Linked DNA regions of Homo sapiens: region 2 is linked to region 1. The links come from fine-mapping of genetic effects on gene expression. A gene starts in region 1. The other region holds a variant in brackets. All regions are shown on one strand. Distances are from middle to middle. Region 1 holds the start of PTGFRN (prostaglandin F2 receptor inhibitor). Region 2 overlaps PTGFRN (prostaglandin F2 receptor inhibitor).

Evidence for each region.
Region 2: its variant is fine-mapped to the expression of PTGFRN in whole blood (TOPMed, PIP above 0.99).

The regions. Positions count from the first base shown.
Region 1 is chr1:116,906,062-116,915,942 of GRCh38, reverse strand. It overlaps PTGFRN (prostaglandin F2 receptor inhibitor), which reads right to left and starts at 6,027. Exons shown (of 9, transcript NM_020440.4): 1 at 5,691-6,027. The coding sequence starts at 5,739.
Region 2 is chr1:116,926,586-116,936,466 of GRCh38, reverse strand. The region is part of intron 1 of PTGFRN (prostaglandin F2 receptor inhibitor); the gene reads right to left. Among named protein-coding and RNA genes, the nearest start is that of PTGFRN, 22 kb to the right of the region's middle. The variant T/C (reference allele first, on the strand shown) is at 4,692.

The sequences.
Region 1 (9,881 bases):
TGTGCCAACTGCAGCACTTCACCTTTTCCAGAAGATAAATTATGAAGAATTTTTGCCAGTTCAAGTTATTTTCCCAAAGCAGAGTCAAATGACCCTTGCAACCCTGCCTTTAAGAAACCAATGCAATTAAACAAAACAGCTATGAACTGCCTGGACAGCATCCTTCCAACTTCATTTGATAAAGTGAGACGCAGACACACATCGACAGACAAGCACACACCTTATTTAACTGCCAGACGCAGTGCCAATATGAAAATGTACATTCAATCTACGGGGGGAAAATCAGCTCAGCAGCTCATCGCTAAAACAAAACAGCCACATAAATGCCGACTAGCCTGCTGCCTTGTAAGGAATGATCACTGACAACTAGAGTTCCTATTCAGCAGGCTAATAAGAATAATTATAGCCAGGGCAGGCATTAATCAGCTTGGCAGATACAGGAATTCTGTTAACAAGGCTAAAATAAGTGCCAAGGAATCTCTGAAGGCCACAGCACTTCAAAGACTGTTAAAGCTGGATGGATTCACTAGGGTTCCTCCCACTGGCCTTCCTCCTCCTTCAGTGCTTTCCAGAGGCAGTTGCATTTCGGCCCGTCCTCAGAGCCGGCATGGCCACCTGCTAGGGTTGCAGAGATGCCACACCTCTGAGGTGCATGCTGGCACTGCCCTTCCCTTCAGGAAGTGTACCTGGGCTGCACTAACCCTGGATCCTCCTATTTTTAAATGCACTTTCACTTTCAAACCACTATCATCTTTCTTCACCTAAGCTAATCTCAAGCAATACGCAGCATAAGGTTTAGCGAACATTAGTAAACTTTTCCTTAGCAGAGACAGAATGGAGTCCTGAGATCAGATCCTAGGTCTGCTAGGAAGAATCTGTATGTCTCTAGACAAGTTAACTAACTTTTCTGGGCATCAGTTTCCTTATCTGTAATAAAGACAAAATAGTGACTTTCTCAAAGTATTGTTGTGAGGAATAAATACCAGAATGTACGTCAGAGCCTGACGCTTGATATGCAATCGAGAAATAGTAGCTATTATTAGTCTGTGCCTATTAGGTGCAGAGCCTTGTACAGAAGCTATGAGGAAAAAAAAACAAAATACTCAGTATGCAGAGACACACACACGTTAGGCAGGAGTGGCTGTGCCTGGGCAGGAGGGTGGACACATTTTTTTCCTTTTTTTTTTTTGAGACAGGGTCTCGCTTTGTTACCCAAGCTGGAGTGCAGTGGTGCGATCACGGTCCCCTACAGCCTTGACCTCCCAGACTCAAGTGATCCTCCCCACTCAGCCTCCCAAGTAGCTGGAACCACAGGCACATGCCACCATACCCGGCTAACTTTTCTTATTTTTTAGTAGAGATGGGGGTCTCACTATGTTGCACAGGCCGGTCTCGATCTCCTGATCTCAAGCAATCCTCCCACCTTGGCCTCCCAAAGTGCTGGGATTGCAGGCATGAGCTGACCTGTTTAGCCCAGATTTTTCTTTTGACCTTATATCCTTTGTAAGTAACACAGAGACTGTTAGCTGTTCCCTCAAAATCTGTCTTTCCCTTCTTCCATAGTAGCTGGCACATGGCTTCCCAGCTTTCCTTACAGCTAGTGTGGCATGGGCCCAAAGTCTCTCCAATAGAACGTGTGCAGAAATGATGTGTGCCACTTTCAAGTCTGACCCACAAAGACTCCAAATATTCTACTCTACGCTCTTTCCTCCTTTGTAGGGGCTGGAATGGTGATGACGACTACCAAAGTGATCTTAGAAACTGTGAGTTGAAGACAGCAGAACTGCCACCAGCTGGGGAGCCAGAATGACTGTGTAAAGCAGGGTTCCCACCCAACCCTTTCCTCTGAAGCATCTCCCTCGCATTGTTATATAAGACACATCTATTGTCTGAACCACTATGCTTTGAGTTTGTTAGAGCAGTTTAGCCTACCTGATTAATACAAAGTCCTTTTATATCATTTGAATTTTAAAATACAGATGTAATGCTTTTGACACTTAAAAAAGTATCTCAATAGATTTGCAAAAATAAAGACATAAAGAGAATGTGTTAATCCCACCCTACAATCTCCATGCCTTCTACTCTCCAATTTATGTTGCACTAGTTGAGGGTTTATCCTCCTCAACACATTACCCTGTCCTGTTAATCTCGCCCTACAAACTTTTAATGGCTACCCATTCCCACAGATAAAATGACATATGTAAGTATTCAGTCAGCCAATATGTATCAAACAACCAGTATGAGTTATATATCCTATTCGTAATAGGGACATTGTAGTGAACAAAATCAACGTGGCCCCTGCCCCCAGGGGAAACAATCAGAGTAGGGAACAATTACATACAATGAAGGAAATATATGCTCTGATGACAGGGCACAGACTGGCTGGCAGCACCCAGAGCACCAACAAATCTACCCCTCCCAGTCCAGACTCCTTAGCACAGCATGCAAAACCTACAGGATCTATCCCAAACCCACCTTTCCTCCCCCATTATTTCCTCCTCCCCCAAATAATTGCACCCCCATTATTTCCTCCTCCTCCCAGCTCCAGCTACAGGGAACTTACGTGCCATTTCTCAATGAGCCATGTACTTTCACTCATCCACACTTTAGGCTTTTCCCCAGAGCCCAGAATGCTCTTCTATCCTTTCTTTCAAAATTCTAATTATCCTCAAGGCTCAACTCAAATGTCACTTCTTCAGCAAAACCAGCCCCAACCCCCAAGTCAAAATTAATCATCCCCTTCCTTGTTTCCCACACTTGGTTTCCATGTCAGGTATTTCATTCAGTCCTGTGGTTAGCTATTTTATTCTCTGTCTACTCACACCCACCAGCCGCTCAGGGAGATGCTGTGTCTTTGTCATTTGTCTGGGACTCCCAGTATTGAACACACAGTTGCACACAGAGTGGCCACTCAAGAAATGCCACATTGAGTGGATGGGCAAGACAGGTCAGACATAGGCAATGGATGTGAAACCTGCTCTATGTGGCTGGGTGGGTTCTGGTGTGATCATGGTAGGTAGGCTTAGGAAGGCTTCATGGAGAAAGTGAGTTTCAAGGGAAAAAGGAAATATTAATACGCAGGCAAGAGGTGAGAAGTAGAAGGGGCCAGAAGGTTTAATATAGTCTACATAAAGGAGAGCAAACAGGTTAGTTGGAACGAAGTGTCTGAGCCAGAGAAGACCAGAGGGGAGGGACACACAAGGGGCAACATCTCCTTGGAGGAAACTCATAAGGACACAGTGAGAACAGGTGGGAGCCCCAAAAATGATCATTTAGGAAAAGGATGAGCTTAAAAGGGAGGCTGGAGGAAATAATCAACCAGGAAGACACCAACTGTGTGGGAAACAATCAGGACCTGGGCTAAGACAGTAGCCGTAGAAACAGGAAGGAAAGAAAGAAGCTGGAGTCTGTGGTACGGGGAGAGCCAAGAATTGAGAGACTACGTGAATATGGAGGTCAAAAAGAGCAGCGATACCACGATTATACCCAGGTTACACCCCAGGAGGAAAGATGATCTTGTTTATCAACATATTACATTTCAGGGATCAGTACAGTGCCAGAGCAGTGTAACACAGCGAGACCTTCCCAGAGGTCAGGCTGAAGCCACACCGAGTGAGATTCTGTGACAGCAGAGTTATCAGGAGGGTCATCAATGGTTCAGAGAACTGTTAGGTGAAAAGGTACTGGCTGGTGACACCACAGAAATTCCCTGTGTAATTCATAGGAGGCATCCAGCCAGGACAGGATATGCTGGAGTACAATCAAGATTTCCCCAAGCTGTGCTTTCCCCACTTCTATTTTGTTTTTGTCAGTCTCTCTTTGCCCCCTCCCCTCTTCTCCCTTCATTATTACTCAAGGGCATTGTTTTCAAAGTTCTACCTCATCCCACCCTCATAACTGGTACCCAGGTTGTTCAGAGAACTGCACAGCTCTAGGGGGAGTTATTCACACAGACTACAAAGTGAACAGCAGCTCCCGAAGTTGTACAGTGCACCATCTGTGCAAACCTAGGCCATGGCCCTGCTTGACCCAGACACATAAAGTCAATTAATGTGTGTGGACTATAACAGCAGTGCGCCACTAACATACAACTTACAAGGGTCCCAGAGTGAAAAGTAAAGATTAAAAGCACTACCACCGGGTGTGGTGGAGCATGCCTGTAATTCCAGCACTTCAGGAGACTGAGGTGGGAGAATGACTTGAGCCCAGGAGTTTGAGGCTTCAGTGAGCTGTGGTTGTGCCATTGCACTCCAGACTGGGTGAAAGACTGAGGCTTTGTTTCAAAAATAAAAATAAAGCACTAGGATCAGGGACTATAGAAAAGATGCCATAAAACTAAGTGGAAGATCTGGAAGCTTTCTGCACATGGGCTGAAGCTGAAGCAATGTGGCTGGACGAGCTCTCTGAGGGAGTCAGTTCAGAAAATCCCTTCAAGGTGAAGGAAGAAAACACAGCAGCCAGCAAGGCTGGTTCATCAGCAGCAGGAGTCATGGGGGTTACAGCAGTGTGGGCCCCGGTGTCCCCAGCAGGGGAGTAGCTATAGAAGGCCTCCTCTGGAACCCTCTGACCATAAGTGCAGAGTAATCATTTGCCCTGTGTGCAGCTGGGACCTGAATGGCACGGACACCGCACATCATGCGCTCTGTGAAAGACTCAGAGCCGCCTTCTCTAGGGGCTTGGAAGAGAACCCCAGGCCAGGTCACAGGAATCATCTTGTCCTGGTTGACACTGACAACAAGGATCCAAGAATATCAAAACATTTAAGAGTCGGCCCTGGGGTACCATGGTGGGCACTTAATAAACATATTTCCGTGGCTGGCTAGGATCACCATGTGGATCTACGTGAAGATGGTGTCTGTGTATGGAGTGAATGGAAAATGGAGAGGGAAAAAACCCACAAAAGATTCCTTGGGTGGGGGGAGGGCGCTGGGCCAAAACCTCACGGGGCACCCAGGGTTTCCGGAGGGTGGAAGACGAGGGGATAGTAAGGGAGGGAAAGTAACAGGTAGAAAAAGTTGGAGAAGCCAGGCTTTTAGGTCTTTGTGTATAAATACGCAGCTAGGCAGCTTCAAGAAAAGCTAAAAGAAAAGACTGAGGCAGAAGATCTAGCCACGACGAAAATGACGGCAGGACTCGCCCGCCGATTTCCATTGTAACGCTCCGGGCCACCCTGTGACCTTCGTGGAAGGAAGTTGGAGGATTCTCTCGCTTCCCTGGAAAGGCAACTCCGCGCGGGTTGGGTGAAGAGCGACCCGGCCGGCGGCGGCTATGGCGGGGCATATCAAAGGCTCACATTTCCGCTCTCGAGCCGAGGACCCGGGCCGGGACCGCAGCACCTTCCGGGCCGGGAGTTCAAGGTGAGCCGGGCTCCCGGCGGCCAACAGGTAGGGAGACCTGGGGGAAAGACGGCCCCGGGCCACTCCCCCCGGCACATGTTGGGGGCGAGGCTCGGCCTGGCGGAGCGGCCACTTGCACCCCGCGCGCGGGGCCCGAGCGGATTCGCGCCAGGCTCCGGGCGGCCCCGCGGCCGCTCCCCGCCGGGCCGAACAACCCGCGCACCCCGGCCGGGTTTCCCGGGAGCAGCCCGGGCACCCTCGGCGCCCCAGGCCGCGCGCTGCAGCCGCGCCCCGCCGAGCCCTCCAGGGCCTCGCCAGTCCCCGTGTGCCCCGCTGAGCCCCGCGCACACTCACCCAACGACAGGAGCGCCAGCAGCAGCGGCCTCGAGGCCAGGCGCCCCATGCTCGCCCGGCGGGAGCGACTCTCCCCCTCCTCCTCCTTCCCCGCCGCCTCTCCTCCTCCTCCTCTTCCAGCTCCGGCTGCTCCAGAGTCGGCGCTCCTCCGCCTGGGCCGCGCGCCTGCTCCGCTCTCCTCGCGAGCCGATAAATCCCAGCGCTGGGGCGTACGTGCGCCCCTGGCTCCGCTCGCTCCCTCCCGCCTCCTTCCCTCCCTCCTCCAGCCGGCCGGGCCCGGGAGCCGGCCCCGCCGATCCGAGTGTGCAGCCCCGACCGCTTCCCGAAAGCAGAAGGGAAGAACCGCAGCGCCCGCCCGCGCCTCCCATCCGGCGCTTTGCCAGCAACAAACACAAACTTTCCCAAGCCCCTCCCCGCTCCAGGTAACGGAGGAAGAGCCGGGGCCACCCGCTTAAAGGCGAGGAGGCGTCGGAGCCCACCCTGCCATCCCCTCTGGGCCCCCACCCCACGAGAAACTTTCCTCCGACCTTTAAAAGTTGGCCTGGGAAAGACTCGTCTGGAAATCCCATCGCTTTAGCCCTATCCCGGGACACCCCGCGTTCCATCACGCTGGAGTCACCCACGCGTGTCTAGTCTATCCTCAGCCAACTCCCCGCTCGTTCGGCCTCTCGTCCTGAGCTAAACACCCCACCAACCAGCCGCTTGGCCTATGCCAAAAATTATGCAGATAGGAGCGAAGGAGCTGAAAGGACTTTTAAAGGCCACGGATTCCAACCTCTACCATACAGAGGCCTTAAGTGTTTCGGTGAGGTGCCCAAGGATTCACAGGGAAGGGGCAAAATCAGAACCCCGCTCTCCTGACTCTGCCCACTCCCCGGTGGCTAGGGTGGGCCTGTCTCCTTCCTTACCCAGCTCCCTCCCTCTCCTCGGCGCCTGTGGCACTGATTAGAACAGCACCCCACAAAGACACCCATTTAAAAAACAAACAAAACCCAAGTGTATTAATAGCTATAGTACTTCATATAGAATGTACTCTTAAGACTTAATATTTATTGCTCTAAGTGGACACCACTGATTGCCAATAAAGACTCATTTTTCCCCCTACAATAGAGTTTTGTGCTTTTGATTTGAATACAAAAGGCCCGACTTGGTTGGGAGAAATGGAGCATTCCTTGCTTGAAACTTAGCAAGCATGATTCAAACACGCAAGGAGCAGCACTGGTGCCCACTGCCCGTCACTGGGCTTTCATTCACATGCAAAACGGATCGCAGATGCTTATGCGGAAACTGCCCACACTGGGGAAGAACACTGCTTTTACTCTCATGCATCCGTCTTTCAACCAACAAATGTTTCTTATTTCCCCACTATCAAATGTGTGATTAGCCAGGTATCTTTGGAAAGAGACTTAAAAATTCATTCCTGGTGGTGCAACGTTATTGTACTTAATGCCACTGAATGGTACACTTAGAAATGTTTAAAATTGCCAGGCCTGGTAACTGGTACTTGTAATGCTAGCTACTCAGAAGGCTGAGGTTGGGGGGGCAGGGGGAGGCGGGGGGCAGGGATGGTGTTGCTTGAGGCCAGGAGTTTTTATTTGTTTTGTCTTCTTTCTTTCTTTCATTTTTGAGACAGGGTCTCAAAATGAGGATCTGTCACCCAGGCCGGAGTGCAGTGGTGCGATCAGGGATCACTGCTGCCTTGACCTCCCAGGCTCAAGCAATCCTCCCACCTCCACCTCTCAAGTAGCTGGAACCACAGATGTGTGCCACCACACTCTCGCTAATTGTTTTTATTTTTTGTAGACACTGGAGTCTCCCTATGTTGGCCAGGCGGGTCTCGAGCTCCTGGGCTCAAGCGATTCTCCCGCCTCGGCCTCCCCAAAGACTGGGATTACAGGTCTGAGCCACTGGGCTGGCACTTTTTCTTCTTTTTCTTTTTTCTTTCTTTTTTTTTTTTATTTGAGGCTAGAAGTTTGAGACCACTCGGGCAACATTGTGAGACACCGTCTCTAAAAAAAAATTTTTAAGGTTAAAATGGTAAATTTTGTGCTATGTACATTTTACACAATAATTTTTTTAAAATTTATTTCTGCCGCCAAGCCTTTCCTGGTTCTGTTCATACACACTGTAATTCCTTTCTCTTCCCCATCCCAATTCTTCCCTAGAATCTCGCAGGGAAGTTTCCCAATTTCATTCAATCAACCTTGAATTCAAGCCTAATGTTAGGCCTTGGAAGGTAGTGGAGCTTCAGAGAAATGTGAGGCCTGGCACCTTCAGAAGCTCAGATTTCAGCTCATCCTCCATCTTTCCTTTTCTTAACCACCCAGAACGCTTAATGTTTGAACCACACATTGTGGCACTTGGTCACATTCAGTTTAGCAAAATGTATACACTACCCCCATCTCTGTCTAATAATGCATGGGCCTAAGAGGCTGTCACATTTTCACCTTGTATCCCACCTTATGGCAGAGTAGATGTTTTAAAAATTCTTTTGTTTAATAAACAATGTGTGTCAGGGACTGTGCCTAGCACATGGTAGGTCCCAATGTATATTTATAGAGTGAATTAATGGCAGACACTGGGCTAGATCCTGGGGGTACAGGGATGAAGCAGACAGTTCTTGCCCTTGAGGAGTCGACATTTTGTGCATTGTGATTGCATATGCAAGGTAGAGTTGTGACACCACAAGGGAGCGGCCAGTCCAGGAGGAGGCTGTCAGAGAAAGCTTCACAGAGGGGATGACTATGCAACGAGTCTTGAAAAATTGGTAGGTCTTTAGCTGTGGAGTGTAAGGATAAGCTTACAATAGATGTTGTGTATTTAATATGATAGAGATTCTTCTCACCTCACCCACCCCCAGGTATTATTAAATTAATGGTGTATCTTACAATCATGGAAATAACAGTGGTTAACCATTGAAATGATGAGAATAAATAAAATTGTCTAGGTAAGGCAGGTAGAATGAGGACTGAAGTGGGTAGCCTGCTGGTGGCTGGCAGTTAAATGTCATGGGAGTTAACCAAAGAGCCACTTTTGTAGCAAAAAATAAGCATAAATTAATAAGTCTAGACTGTTGGTTATAACCACCACACCCTTTGCACCTTCCTGACTACCAATGGATAAAGGAAGAAACACAGCAGACTGGCACAATTTGTTAATTCATGACTCTGGAATCTGATGATGCTTTTACTATGAAAGATATTTATTTACCAGAGTGAGTAACCTTCTATACAGGTAAGGCTTTTGCCCCAACCAGTTGTTCTCCTATCTTAGTCTATAGGCTTGCCTGGGGCAGGAAGACTCACTCTCCAGCAATTCTAATTGATTCACGCCCACCCCCAAGGAGAGTACCGACATGGGTTTCTTTTCTCCAATCATAGTGCCCCCAAGGGGCACTGGTCACAGCAGTCCGACATTATGGTCTTTTGGTCACACATGTCTTTCTGCAGGTGATACCCCTAAAACCTCACAAGAGTCCTCATACTGTTACGCCAAACAAGTTTTCCCTGCTGAGATCAGGCAAAAACATCATCATGTTATTTAACTTTGTGAATGAAAATGTTAAAAGGTTCCCAGTGAATGAAATTGCTGATTGTTCTAAGACTCACCTAGACTTGGAGTTGTTGGCCCTGCCACCTCTGGCAGCCTGTACACGCACACAGTCTCCAAATGACCCTGACCCCTACCTACTTCAGCAGGGGCTCAGGGGAAGGAGTATATTCCATGGCACCGTTTCATTCCACTAATCATTTTCACTCACAGTCTTCCTTGTTCTGTGTCCAGATGTATATTTTCCCAGTTAAAGTTAAACAGAGATTACTAAACAAAAAGAAATTTAGGATTATATTATAGAATTAGAAAATGAAATTAAAAGTTAGAAAGGGAGGGGTGGGAAGAGGAGGCCTTTATTTCCCCACGAGTGAGAGTCCTGCAATACTGGTGAGATTAGTGGGGAAGCTGTAGAATGCTCATGTGACAAGTTTGAAAACAGCAAGGGACCTCATCTGTTTGGTATGGGCTAAGCAGGGTCCTGCCTGAGGGCTGGTCCTGCTCGTCACCACCCAACTATCAATTCTCCCCATCTTTTCTTCAGCCCTAAAAGACTGAAGTGGGACATGGTGGAGAAAGTGTTCTTAAATGACTTAGAACTGTTCCAGATTCCACCTCCACCAGGCCAAAAGTGCCTCCCTG
Region 2 (9,881 bases), 21 kb before region 1:
ACATTGGCTATATGATAGCTCCACTGGGAAAAGTAAAGCAGATATGAACAGATGCTTGAAAGATCAAATTCTAATCCGAAAAGATATAAACCTGAGCACTGTCTTGCATGCAGAACTAGGATGTCCCCTCATCCATGCAAATCAAGATCTTAAATTTTGGTAACAGAATTTCAAATTGCCACCAAGCAATCTGGTATTTAGCACAGATTTCTTGTAATATTGTTAAATAACAGCTAATGATATTTAAAAATAAATATAACTTGGAAAAAATAGAGCATATGGCTCTTTTCAAATCAAAAAGAATATCTACATAGCCACATGTTGCCAATTTTTGTCAAAACCTTTTGTAACAGTTGATAACTGAGGGAAAAAGAGGAAAAGAAAGTTTTCCTCTATTTTTCCAAGTTCTACCAGTGTTTCAAACTGAAGGTCCCAAACACTTCTTTACCTGAACTGTATTAGTTTAGTTCCCCATAAAAATGCCGCTACTAAGTAACAATCTTGAATTATGGCTTCATTTGTTTTCAGGAGTCAATATAAGAAACCTTCATACGAAAAACATTTATCAGCCTTAAAAGTCCTATTGAGGACACTACTGGGTTGTTCAATGACACAAAAATTCACATAATAAAATTCCATTAAAATTTAATACCAGAAAAAAAAATACCTGTTGATGGACCATTGTACATTCTTTCAAAAAAACAGGAACTACACAGGTTTCTCTTACCTCTCGGGGCAGTTACCACAGCCTCAGAGTACCTTTGATACCCAAGACAAAATAAGGGCACTTTAACTATCACCTTCATGCAGTGTTTACGTATATGTATGTGTATTTCATTGGAAGTTGACTCAAATATTTGGGGGTGGTAAGCAGAGTTTAAATTTCAAAAGACCAATAATTGAGATTTCTACTTTTAGATTTTTGCTTTTTGCTATCATAGAGTAGCTAATATCAGATCACTCCCCACCCCCTGCCCCCACCCTCACTCCCACTACAGAAACCATAAAAGATAGATAAAAGCTAACTGAATGCAGTGGTGAGCAATCAAGGCAGCCAGGCTCAAGGGTCCAAGATCACAGAAAGATACTGAAGTGGACTCAACAATACCCACTGCCTTTTCTCTTCAGATATTTGCTATTTTTAAGTGGTGCAGGCTAGAAAGCAAGTAGAAGTAAGTAACTCAGAGCTTCCAGCACCTTGTGGGGCCAAGAAGACAACTGAAGTTCAAGGATACTAAGAAGGTCAGAGTTTGAGGAGCAAGATCCTACGAAAAAAAGGCAACAGCAGAGAAGTGAGCTTGACATACTACATTGTTTTCCCCTCAAGGTAACTGACATGAAAGATACATTGAAGGGTATGGGGAGGTGGTAAGTGGCTGAGAAGCTAAGCAGAAAATAAACACTAGGGGGCTAAAGGTTAAGTAAAATTTTTGACCATTTCACAATACGGGGAAACAAAAACTAGAATTCTGAGTCCACAAAGGAAGGTGGTAAACACTCAGATTCTCAGTTACAATCCTGGAAGGGCTATGCTCTTGGAATAAGAGCAAAGCGGAAAAAGCAACTAGCTCTCATCAAGACTAAAAGACAGTCTCAAAGCATCTCAATTCCTCATTGGATAAAGATGAGCTTCTCTTACTCTACTGGCCTGTTAGGAAAAAAGTAAATCTTCTCAGATAGAAGATGACATCATACAAAGCCACTACAATTTTTCAGTGTTCAATTAAAACTTACCAGGTATTCCAGATGACAGAACCAAATAAACAAAAACAAAAGAGAAAAAATAAGACAATAGAAACAGACCTCCAGGGATCCAGATATTGGTTTTATCAGACACAGATTGTAAACTAACTATAATTAATTTACTAAAGAAATAGAAAACAGGATTTCACCCAAACTGAAATATATTGAAACAATCAAATTGAAATTTTAGAACTAAAAAAAAAAATACAATATCCGAAATTAAGAGGTCAATAAATAGGTTTGGCAGCAGATTAGATGCAGCACAGAAGAAGTCAGCAGCCAGGCACAGTGGTTCTCGCCTATAATCCCAGCACACTGGGAGGCTGAGACAGGAGGACTGCTTGAGCCCAGGGGTTCAAGATCAGCCTGGGCAACATAGTGAGACCCTGTCTCTAACAACAACAGAAAAAATTAGCCAGGCATGGTGGCACACATCTGTAGTTCCAGCTACTCAGGAGGCTGAGGTGGAAGGACTGCTTGAGCCCAGGAGATGGAGGCTGCAGTGAGCCATGACTGTGCCACTGTACTCCTGCCTGGGCAACACAGTAAGACCCTGTCTCAAAAAAAAACAAAACAATCACAAAAACAAAACAAAATAAAACAAAAGTCAGTAAAAGTTATCCAAACTGAAGCCCAGGGTATAAAAAAGAACTAAAAAAGCCAGACAAGAATCTATGAGACACAGTAAAAAGGCCAAACATATGTGTCACAGAGGCCCAGAAGGACAGGGAGAGACTGTAGTAGAATTAGGCATAATTTTTGAAGAGATAATGGCTAAGATTTTTCTTAAACCAACAAAAGACATCATGCCACAGATGCAAGATAAGATATGTATCATAAACAGAATAAATACAAATAAAACCACACCTAGGTAAATCATAGCAAAACTACTGAAAGGCAGAGAAAGGAACAGGAATACAACTGATGGCTAACTTTCAACGGAAATGATGCTCATGAGAAGACCACAGAATGACATCTTTAAAGTGATGAAAGGAAGTAACCACCAACCTAGGATTCTATACAGAGAAAAAAAATCCTCAAATAGGAAGGCAACATAAACATGCTTTCAACCAATTCTCAACAAGGGAAAAAGAATTAATTGCACCAAAAATAAGTACTAAAGGGGGTTCTTCAAATAGAGGGAACATAATCCCAGTTGAAATCATGGAAATGTGAGAAGGCAAAGTGAGCAACAGAAAGAATAACTATGTGGGTAAACCTACTGAATATTGACTATAAATACAATATTAGTAATGTCTTCTGGAATTCAAAATATATACATAATTAAAACATATGACATCAATAGCAGAAAAAGTGAGGGGAGGGGTGGAATACATTGGAGCTTAAATGTTGTAAGGTCTTTCATTATCCTGGAAGTGGTAAAAGGATCACTAGTAAACACTAACAGATCACTGATACGTGTTCTAATCTCTAGAGTAACCACAAAAATGAAAGACTGAATAACAAGCTAATTGGTGGGGGAGGGGGAGGGTAGAATAAAAAATACTTGATTAATCAAAGACCCCATAATTTCAGCTAAAATCATATAAGCATTTCTCATAGTATTTATTTCATGATGTATTCAGTTTGATTTACTATCAAGTCTCCCAGTCTCTCTCCACAACAATATTAGAATCGAGTAAGAGGAAGAATAATAATGTACAGTGTTTCTTACATGGCATGCACTGACTGACTGAGCCAGGCACTATCCACAAATTGTCTTAATCCACAGAAGACAACCATAAGGTAGCTATTACCACCCCTATCACAGATATGAGGAAATTGAGAATCAAAGAAGTTGAATAACCTCCTGAAGGTCATAACAGCTATAACGTGAGGGACTCAAACCCAAACTTGATAGTGCAGCATAAGCCAAAGATAGGTCGGATTTCGTTTGCCTTCAATTGCATTATATATTATCATCCTCTGTTGATTTTTTGTCTTTAATCTGAGTAGGAAAAAGAAACAGCTTAAAATTCCCTATATTTCATATTCTCCATGGGCAATGGAACCAAGATAGGCAGCAAAGTAACACAGAAATGAGTCACTGAAAGAAGAAATATTATATATTTTCAATGTGAAGTAGACAGATGAGAGAATAGAAGAAACTGGATTGTTAAAAATTTCTTCAAAAATTTTTCTGATGTACTACCTTTGTTATTTTAAGTGATACCAACTTTAACACCACGCATATTTATACTCAAAAATGGTGCAGAGAACTTTATTCCAAAATCATACAGGAGGGACTTTTAGAAGTCCTCTGCTCTGACTTCTCAGCAGTAGAAAATTAACAACCAAGAGTTAATTGTTTCCCGATTACCATTTCCCTACCTCTGGAATACTCAAGAAAGTAATTAAATGCCTTCGACTTTCTTCTATCAGGTGGAATCGATGGGGACAGGTAGAAAAAGGCAAGTTCTTCAAAGTAAACAACTACTCCTGCAATGTTTATTTAAATAAGTGCTATTGCCAACCATGAGGAATCATTAAGAAAGACAAGGCAATGAAGACTACACTTCATTTATCTATGCTTTTCCACCTCCTTCTGATATCCATGGGAAATGGATTTTATTTCTCAGGTTATCATCAACATTATTCTAAATCAAGACCTGCAGAGTATAGCATATTTGCTAAAAATTCTTGCAATTGTTTCTATTTCTGCTCAAATTTTATTATTTCACTGAGCTGCCTAGAAGCAAACAATCTGACTTTCCAATCTGAACCATTTGTAAGATAAGTATCAGCAGTTATTGAATCCAGTGGTACAGGTGAGTTGAAATGCTGAAACTAAAGAGGTTATGGTTTTCAGCATGCCTTGTAAATGGGTGCCTAATTCCCACTTCCCGAGTCCTTACAAGGCTTTTAGGAGAGACTCGGGGCCTATGGATTGCCACATGGAGTTCCCAGTCCACATATGAGCTAGAAATGAATGCACAGAAAGTCAAACT[T/C]ATAAAACCTTATAGTGCCTTTATTGGAGTACCTGACTCAACAAATGAAAAACCTTTGTCTCCTCAAGTCTGCCACTGAGAGGTCTGACAGGAAAGGATCATGCCAACTTTCATCTAGACAGTCCCTAAGTCATGAAAATGCAGCAAGGCACATTAAACAAGCTATAGACAGCAGAGAATGTGTAATGAAGTCACATATGGCAGAACTTCAAAACCCCATCCAGAAGCAAATAAGGTTCTACTAGAACAGTGCTTATAATCATTAAAAAAAAAAAAAAAGAAAAAGTTCAGCTAAGACCTCACTGAGATACACTAGACAAATGTAAGATAAGATAACTCATTCAACACACAGCTACTGAGCAAAAAGTCCCTGTGCTAGGTGATAAGTGAGAGTGAAAGGTTAGTCAGCTTGTGGATCTTCTTTTAAGGCACGTATGGTATGCTAAGAGTCAGGAGGTGTGGAACAGTGCAAACTGTCATACAGGCTGTATATCCTTTATTCAAAACGTTTGGGACCAGAAGTGTTTGGGATTTCAGATTTTCAAATATTTGCATTCCTACCAGTTAAGGATTCCCAATCTGAAAATCCAAAATCCAAAGTGCTCCAACGAGCATTTCCTCCGAGCATGACCTCTGAGCAACGTATCAGTGCTCAAAAAGTTTCAGATTCTGGAGCATTTCCAATTTTGGATTTTTGAATTAAGGATGCTCAACCTGTATAAGGAAGGATATAAATAATCAAAGAGATGCACTAACAGGTGCCTCAGGGGTCAAAAGAGAATGAGGACATTTCCATCCAAAGGGATTCATAAAAAGCTTCATGCAGTGTCAATATTCGAATTTGGCCTTTGAAAAATGGTTGGATGAGGGGGAGGTTTAACAGAAGACATGAAGGAGGAAAGTGACCAGAGATAAGGGGTGTAGCATAAGCAAAGACCTAAAGGGGCCACGGGGGACACAGGCAGGTAGTGGTGAAGACAGGGTGACTAAAACAGTGTATCAAGAGCAGACTGGAGAGGAGACATGGAGGCCCAGAGATCATTCAGGGACCCTCTATCAATGGTGGGGAGAGGTAATAATAATGAAAACAAGGGCAATGACAGGAATCAAAAGGCAGCAGCTCTGAGAGCCACAACAGAGGAAGGGTCAACTGGTAGACCTGTGAGGGGAGACAGAAGCCAAAGGGAAGCTAATCACTGGTGAAATCTATTTTCTTATAGTAAGATTTTGACCAGTAGAAATGTCCACCGGACAGTTGGAATGGAAACCCCTAGAAGATATTTGAGCCTAACATCAATGTGGAGTCACATGCACGGAGGGAGTGGGGGGTAAAAAGGAAATCTGCCCAGCAGTGAAGACGTGGGAGTCGATGACACCATCGGGAGACAGATTACTGTATAGAAAAGAGGGAATGGGACAAAACCACAGCAAAGTCCTATGTTTAAGGCATGAGCAGAAGAAAAAGAGTCAGCACAGAAAAAAGAAATAGTAACCAGTTAGGAAGAAAACCAGGAAAGGCTTATGCCCTAGCAGCCAAGGGATGCAAGAATTTCAAGAAAGGGTTTGAAGTAACACTTACTGTTTCTTTATGAACATTACTCATCTACTTGCTCCTGGCAGACTGCAAGCTCCTTTAAAGCAGGAGCTGTTTCCTACCCATATCTGCATCCTGCACAATATCTAAAGCAGACTCCTACTATATGCCTTTGTTTGAAAAAAATGAACAACAATGTCAAACATGCAGAAAAGTCAAGGAAGGTGGGTGCTGAGAAAAGAGAAATGAACTGATGGCTAAGTAATCACTGGCAACCTCCAGGAAAGCGCATTTTCAATGACGGGTATGGGATCTGGAAAGTAAGAGCCAGGAGAGAAGGAACAAAGATGTAGGGAAGAGAAGGCACAACCATGAAAAAGGCACTGAAGCAGCAAGCAGGGGGTTCATCCTGCAAAGTCAGCCAGTCAGTCCCCCAAAGCACCTTCTAGGCACTGGGGACACATGGCCACCAGTCCCTGCCTGCAAGAAAACTGTGTTCTAGGAAAGAGACAGTGATGAAGTAGACCCACTGACAAATGCTATTCAGTTAAAATATGACAATATGAAGTGTGGTCAGGAAAGGCCTCTCTGAGAGGGTCATGTCTGAGTTTAGACCAGAATGACGAAGAGACAGTGATTGAAGCTCTGGGGCAAAACTGCTCCAGACACAGAACAGCAAATATAAAAGCACTGTGATGGAGCAAGCTTGGGTGTTTAAAGTACAGAAAAAAAAGATCACTGTGACTGATCACAATGAATGAGGGGGCAGGGGCCCTGGATTCTGGTTGAAATGGGAAGCACATCAACGAGAAAACGATAGAGCCTACTTTCTTTGTAGAAATTTCAGTCTGACTGCTGTGGGAAAGACAGATTATATGGGGCCAATTTGGAAGCAAGGACACCAGCATGGGGGAAGTTTCTGTAGACCAAGCAAAAGCTGATGAACACCGGCCTTGGTTGACAGTGGTGGTGACTCTCAGGAGTAGTCAGATTCAGGACTTAACTTGTGTATGAATGAAAAGACAAACTGACTTTTTGAATGTGGGGAATGAAGAAGAGAGCAATCAAGAATGATCTAGGCTTCTGGCTTGAGCATCTGGCATACAGGGTGATGCCACTTACTGAGACAGCAAAGTAATTAGAGGGAAGCAAATCTGTACCAAGGAAAGCAAGAGTTGTCTTCTGGTCATTTTAAATGTGAGGTCCCTATCAGACACCAAGTGGAAGTGCAGTGGAGTAGGCAGCTGGATGTTTAAGTCTGGAGCTCAGTGGGGAGGTCCAAGCTGGAGATACTCACTAGAGAGTCATCAGCACACACAGAGTATTTAAAGCCACAGGTTGCCTGGGGTCACTTGGGGAAAGAATACACATAGAGAGGAAAAAGAGCCAAAGATAGAGCCCTTACTTTTTTTCAGGTTAGACAGAGAAAAGGAGTAAAAATATTAAAAAGTTTTGAGGCAAAAGCTTGAGGTTTCTTTGGTCTCTATTGTCTCAGTAAAATAGTAGAAAGGAGTTCAGATGCTAAAGATCCTGACAAAGGTTTAGAATAAGCATCAGAAGAAATATAATAGGAAACCATCACAAAAGGAACACAAAGGAGAGCTGAGCTGCGGTAAAGATGCCAGGACTTTGCTGGAATCTCAGATGGGCAGACTTTGAGATTTTCCCCAGCAAGATAATAAAGTTCAGGCTTACAAACTACGATTGGTGTGAATTACTGAAATGTAATACAATGTGAGGTCTGGCAAAGAAATATGACAGAGGGTCCCAGGTTGTTAACAAGCTCACTGCTGAAATGCTGACCACCAGAGTCTACCCTGGATTCAGAGCCAAGTAAAGTGAGAATGGCCTGATGGACTGAAAAGGAAGAATGTTCAAAATCAGGGAATCACAATTAGGATGAAGAATAGGTTCAACAGATAGGAGGGAATCTGAAAGGAGTAAAGCAAGGAGGTTGTGGTCACAGAGGGAAATATCAGAATTGACAATCAAAAAGGTGAAAGAATACTAAGTGATGACAAGGCCCAGGTGTGGCCATTAAATCTCACAAAGTCTGTTATTTTTTCCAGGGGCTAAAATTATCATAGCAGGCACTCTCTGAGTCCTCGTTAGCCTGTGCCTGGCTACAGAAACACGAGGAAGGGGCAGTGTGACCAACAGGCCACAGGGGGTAAGAAGGGTGGTCCAGAGACTTAAATCTTGTTTCTAATTGACATTTACATGGCAGTTCTGGCTCTAATGTTATCTATCCTGCCATTTATATCTGGAAATCTTCTTTCAGCCTTCATACGCATGTTCTCCAAATCAAACAAGATTAGAAAGGAGGCGACAAAGACTTTGCATTTCATCAGTACTGACAGGCTCTTCAAAGTCAATGCAACTTTTCTTAGTTTTTGCTGCCAAGACAACCATTACCTCCTGCATCACACCTGTAATCCCAGCACTTTGGAAGGCTGAAGTGGGAAGATGGCTTGAAGCCAATAGTGCAAGACCAGCCTGGGCAACATAGATCTCGTCTCTATAAAAAAAAAAAAAATTTAATTAGCTGGGCATGGTGGCATGTGCCTATGGTCCTAGCTATTTGGGAGGCTGAGGCAGGAAGATGGCTTGAGCCTGGGAAGCAAAGGTTGCAGTGAGTCATGATTGCACCACTGCACTCCAGCCTGGGCAACAGGGAACAGGTCGAGACCCTGTATCAAAAAAAAAAAAAAAAAAAGGTAAGCAAGGCAGAAAGACATACAGTGCCACCAACAAGTGAGGAACAAAAATGCACGGTACTTCTTCAAGACTGGATCATTAACTAACTGAATTCCTTCTTACTAGTAAAGCACTAGATCATATAACTATGACATTGCTTCCAGTTTTGTGGCCTTTGAGAGATCCTGGGAGGCCAGAACCATGTCAAACCTTTAATTCTACATTATGAAATTGTGAGGTTTTGTCACCTGGCTAAGCTGGAACTACATATCCCAGAATCCTCTTATCTGTGTAGTTCCAGGTTAGGGTTGGACAAAATAGAACTTCATGTCAGATTTGGGAGATGGAAGTCAAGCGGCAGCCATTACTTTGGTATATGGCTCGTGGTTAAAGGCAGTGTGGGACAGATGTGAAGGTGCTAGTAGACACCCGTTTGTCCTTGCTCTTTCTGCTTCTGTTTTCTTCCCAAATGCTATTCTTATGGACCAACATGACCCCAAGACCACTAGATGCTTGGCTGCAATCTCGGGGCTAAGTGATTACCCTTCTTCAGAACCCTAAACCAGCCCACTCTGCCTGGTTTCCAGATTCCTCTTCACGCTTCAACTTGTCCACCTGCCAGTGCTTCAAGACAGCTGACTAGTGACTTTTCCTTGATACTTTAACTCTCCTTTTTAGGCCTTCACTTCTCCAACTCCTTCCATAATTGTGTAAGGTCTAATTCCTCTAATACATGTGTTATTCCACAATATTTATAAGGGTTCTGCTTCCCTAATGGAATCCTAACACAGTAAACCAAGTATTGAGTAGACAATTTGCCCTTAAAGACTCAGTAACTGGCAAAAAAAAGACACCTTACATGCATAGCATTGCTTTATAGTTTGCAAATCCTGTTCATATGATTTAATATTCAACCTTGAGAGTATTAAATAAGGAAACTGAGGTTCCGAGAAGTTATG